Linked DNA regions of Homo sapiens: region 1 is linked to region 2. A link means that fine-mapping ties the variant in region 2 to the expression of a gene that starts in the linked region. Tissue or cell type: whole blood. Region 2 holds a variant in brackets; the other region holds the start of a gene. All regions are shown on one strand. Distances are between the middles of the regions.

Region 1 (2,500 bases), 52 kb before region 2:
AGAAAGCCTCTAGAACTGCCTGCTGCTGACTTTCTTTCCTTTCAGGGCATCCAGAGGGTTCAAGTTTAGATTTCAGGCTAAACTTCTGGGCTTAGAGGGTCCTGAGCATGGGACTGGATAAAGGAGGGAAGCCATCATCTCTTCAGAAGATGTTCAGAAAAGGGCATACACCCAGTCTATCTGAGCTGGGAGAGAGCTGCTGTTATGCCCTGGGGCAGGGGGATGGATGAAATGGCATTTGAGGGCTCAGATTCTCTTTGGGGCAAGACCTGACTTCCTATGGACTCCCAGGAGCAGCAGGGGAGTTCTGAGAGGAACTGTGATTGTCCAGAGTGGAGTTTCTTTGAGACTTGCCCTGTACCTAACCCCAAACAGATTTGATACTTAGAGACCTCTAACCCGGCATCTCATTGTACAGCTGGGAAAACTGAGACCCAGGAGGAAGGGGCCTCTCCGAGATGCCACAGTGAGTCAAGAGTCCTCACTTCAGAGGGCTGGAGAATAATCTACTGAGGCAGGGCCAGGGCACCTGTCTGAGAGGGGCTTCTAAGGCTGCAAGCTTTTCCCCTTCCGTGGACTGCATTCACACCTTGTTCGGTCCTGCTGGGGCCGGGGCTCTCCTTCCTTGCCCCTTTTCCTTGGCACTCTTTCCACAGGCCCTGTGTGGTCTGGGCTCTACCGAGAGGTCCCCAAGGAGAGCTGGCGTGTCAGTCAGCCAAGAAGCAAGCAGGCAGGCAATGCCAGCATGCAGGTGGCGGGGCTGGCAGGGGAGCCGGCAGGAGGGCCGGACACCCGGAGCCGGGGAACTGTAATGTTCAGGGAATTTCAATTGGCATTGCTGTCCCGTTCCAGCCAACTGGCTAACGGTGCCGAGTTTGAATCAGTGACCCGCCTCCTGGTCCCTCCTCCTTAGCCGGCCTCTCTCCCTCCCTCCTTTTTTCCCTCCCTCGGTGGCCTTCCAGGAGGCGGGAGGCGCCCGCTGTCGAGGCAGCTGAGCCCCGGCAACCGCTGCTCTCCGCCTCTCCCCTCGCGGGGCCGGCTCATGGAGCGCAGGGACCGGGCTGGCTCTCGCCGAGCCCCGGGCCTCTTTTAGCCTCGTCCCCAGAGAGGGAGGAGCCGGTGCCCGGCACAGCCCCGCCGGCCCTAGAAGCTCCCCACGCGCCACCATGCCTCTGCTGGACGTTTTCTGGTCTTGCTTCAGGAAGGTGAAGGTAAGTGACTGGCCAGCCCCAGCCCATCCCGCTGCTCAGGGGGGAAGGAGGCAGATGTGGACCACTGCGCACCAGCTGGGAAAACGGACCAGACGGGCTTCTGAGACTACCTGAGGCTCTCGGAGTTAGAAAGGCTTGGGTTCAAGTCTCACCTTTGTCACTTAACCAGTTCTGTGACCTTCTGTTGCATTCCCATACAAACAAGTCTGCTAGTTGGCTCTTTTTAATAAAACTCGCCTCTGTTGCTTCCTGGATCTTGCCACAAAGGCAAGATACTTAACCTCTCTGAACCTCAGTTTCCTCTCAGCTTTAGAATGAGGACCATAGTAACACCAACCTTACGGGGTGATGAGGTTGGTGTTATTGTTTACATAGCAAATGTATGCAAATCCAGGAGATAATGTGTGTAAGCTTCCTAGCAGGATGCCTGGTGTGGAGCATCCACACAAACAATGGTATCTATTATTATTATTATTATTAATTTCTATCCATATATATAAAAGCACATACTCTGTGCTAGGCACCACTGGAGCTACACAAAGACAAAAAAGGGCTGGACACAGTGGCTCACGTCTGTAATCCCAGCATTCTGGGAGGCCGAGGTGGGAGGATCACTTGAGGCCAGGGGTTCAAGACCAGCTTAGGCAACATAAGGAGACCCCCATCTCCATTTTTTAAAAGAAGACAAAGAAGGACATGGCTTTTGTCCTCAAAGAGAATATAAGAAAAGTGACAAATATTTACCAGGCACCTACTATATGCCAGACATTGTGCTAAATAGTCAGTTTGTCAGTAAATATTTGTTGAGTGTCTACTATATCCTGGCCATGGGGGATACATGAGCACAGCCGAACCCACAAGTGTGTGTAAAGCATGATTCCACTCTCAAGAACCAAGAAACTAATATTTATTTAGTATCCACTATGTACCAGACCTAGGCACTTTTAATTCATTCATGTGGCAGTGATCCTCAGCACAACCCATTGTTTTCCTGCTTTTATAGATAGGGAAAAGACACTGTGAATAGTTAAGAAATATTTACAAGGTTGCTCAGATATGACTGGCAGAGCTGGGATCTGAGCTCCTAAGTCCATGCCTTTCTTGACGCTGTGTGGTTTCCCACAGTCCAACCCAGTAGGAAGACTTTCAAACGACTAGCCTGACTGTAAGACAGGATGAAAGAATGCTGGGACCTTTGGGAAGGAAAGATCCATTCCACCGGGAGGGACTTGGAGAGGTTTCACAGGAGGTCACATTTGGGCTGAGCCTGAGGCTTAAAGGAAGAGAAG
Region 2 (2,756 bases):
TATAGCTTTCTCTCGGTGAGTGATTTTTGCTTTCTCTGGGCCTCAATTTCCACAACTATAAAGTGGGTAGGGCAGTTGGCAGGCAGACTCAGTGGTCTGTGAGCCTTCCTTTCAGCTATGCAAGTATGCCTCCCCACTCAAGACCCTTTTCTTATCTACCAGGCAATGGTGAGCTGGCTTCAAATTCAATCAGGCCCAGACACTGAATGTTCTCAGCTGGCTGGGTCAGTTGGAGCTGGCCAAGCCCTGAATTGCCACAGCTTGGGTTCTCCTTGTGCTTGGGCATTTCTGCAGTTTGCTCTCTGGCCCCTCCCCAAGCCTGTGTCTGTCCCTAGTGGCCAGCCACTCTCTGACCCATTCAGCCACAAGTTAATGAGTGAACTGCTCCCCCTGGGTCGTACCAGCCCAAGGTGCTCCTGGGATCCTAGGTCCCTGTGGGAAGCAGCCAAGGGCCTAGCCAGCTCCAGTCACCTTTATGCTCTCTCCCACAACCCCTCTAGAGGTAGGTATGCAGGCAGAGCTCAGGGCAGAAGGACCTTTAGAGGGCACTAGGTCCAACTTTCCTTCTGAAGCTTGGGGCTTCCCGACAGGTACTTGTGCAGTTCCTGCTCACTCATGTTCAATACCTGGGAATGTGATATGTTTCAAGCAAGTTGCTTTCGTCTTTGGAATGTGTGAAAGTTTTCTCTTATGTTGAACTTAACTGTGCCTCCCTGAGGCTTCTAACCCTGGGTTCCGAGTGTGCCCTCTGGGACCACCTGGACCCTGTCTGCTCTCTCTGACCTTCAGGGATCTGAGGATGGAACCCAAGTGCACCTGTGTCTTCTCTAGGCCAAACAACCTTCAAGCGTCTGCGCTCCTTCTCAGACCTGGAGCAGCCCCCTTCCCAGCCTCATCACTGTCCTCTGTCCTCCCTACATGCTACTGTTTATGGCCCCCTTAACATGTGGGGGCAGGAAATGGGGCACTGGAAACCCCTCACTCCCCTTAGTTTATTTATAGTCTGAACTTGTTCAGATGACTTTTCCATAATCCTTTTCTGGTTACCACAACAGGTAGACTCCTAACCCCCAGAATCTTGGGTGCAAATACCTTAGACAACACTGATTTGTTTATGGTTCAGGTCCAGCCAGCTCTCACGATTGGAGAGCCCTTGGAAGGTAGGGCCTTCTTATTGGTGCCCCCATAGTGGAGGACAAGCCTGGTGTTAGTAGGTGTTCCCCTTGTTGAGTTAAATACAATGTAATATGTGGGGGGCTTCCAGCGTACCCTGCTTTCCTGCCACTCGGTTTTATCTTTGGAGTTGGTCAGGGGTGGGTGGAGGGAAGGGGATATTTTAGGGAGTACTGAAGCCGGAAATGAGTATGAGCCATGCCCACAGTGGGGCCTAGAAGAGTGAATCAGACAGTGAGAAATACCAACGTAGCCATTCCTTCCCCTGGCAGTTGATGATGATGACTATGAGTCCTCCCATTTCTTCAGTTGCCAAGGCACTTTCACTTCCATGATTCCATTGTGTTCTTAGAGCAGCCCTGTAAAGTAGATGGTATGATTTCCCCAGAATGATCTGTGGTGGTCTCCACCTGAGGCCCAGGGAAGGGAAGAACAGTCTCCAGTGAGGGAGGATTTGGAGCCCAGGTCTCCTGACCCTCAGCC[C/T]TCCCTGTTTTCCCCAAACCACACCCAGCAGCCATGGCAGCCGGGGCTGACTCGGCAGCTTCCCCACCACAGAGGAACCCCTGCCCTGGCTGCAACTCTGTTCCTGTGAGAGAGTGAGCTCCAAGGGACGTGGCCTAGGATTTCCTGTCCTTTATCTGGGCTGGCCAAAGGCTGGCCTGTCTGAGGTGTGAGATAGGCACCTGCAGCCAGCCTTTCTGCTCCAGGCTGAGGTCAAGTCAGGCTGTGGCAGAGGCAGTGAGCTTGTGGGAAGAGCTTGTCCCCAAACATCTGTCCTGAGCAGTGCCCACACCAGCAGGGCCTTCTAAATGGGAAAAACAGAGAGGGGAATGTGGAAAAGGGGTCAGAGTGGAGCAGAAGTAAAATACGTCCTGAGCTGTACACAAGCTCTCATGTTCACAGTGCTGGGAGACTTTGGGCAAATTACTTAACTTCTCTGAGCCTTCATTTTGTCAGCTCTAAAATGGAGATATGTACCCACCTCATGGAGTTGTTGAATATTAAATCCAACAATATAAATAAAATTATTGCCATTATTGTTGCTTGGTAGTACCTTCTGCAGTCCTGTCATTTGGTTGTTTTTCACTGACCTGGGGGTGGGCAGTTCTCAAACCTGCCACCTCGTGGGCATTCGGTCTGGACTTTGCAGTCATTTCAGAGTCCACCTTACCCAGAAAAGCTCCCTTTGGCCATGCCCACCCACAGGGCTCCCTTCCTCTGGCCTTCTTTAGTGGCATTCGCGACACTCAACAGGCTATAGTAGTGATGGTGACACCAATAATAATAGTGAACTCTTCTAAATTCTTGGCAAATTTTAACTTCTTTAGCATTCATGGCAATTCCATAAGGTAGGTACTGCTATCTTTGTCTCTCTTTTATTTAATAAACTTGCCCAAGGTCACATATCCGGGGAGTGATGGAGCTGGGATCAGGACCCAGGTGGTCTGACTCCACCTCCTGACATCTTTAATGACTGGGCCATGCCTCTCTCCAGATGCCTGGCCAGGAGGCAAGAGCTGAGGTTCGGGTCTCCTTCCCCACCTGAGTGCTCATCACACGCACCAGTGATCAGTCACTTCTGG

Evidence for each region. PIP is the estimated chance that this variant, and not a neighbour inherited with it, causes the effect.
Region 1: STARD8 starts here. The variant in region 2 is fine-mapped to the expression of STARD8 in whole blood (TOPMed, PIP 0.98).

The regions. Positions count from the first base shown.
Region 1 is chrX:68,646,717-68,649,216 of GRCh38, forward strand. STARD8 (StAR related lipid transfer domain containing 8) reads left to right here and starts at 950. Exons shown (of 15, transcript NM_001142503.3): 1 at 950-1,211. The coding sequence starts at 1,167.
Region 2 is chrX:68,698,748-68,701,503 of GRCh38, forward strand. The region is part of intron 2 of STARD8 (StAR related lipid transfer domain containing 8); the gene reads left to right. Among named protein-coding and RNA genes, the nearest start is that of STARD8, 52 kb to the left of the region's middle. The variant C/T (reference allele first, on the strand shown) is at 1,657.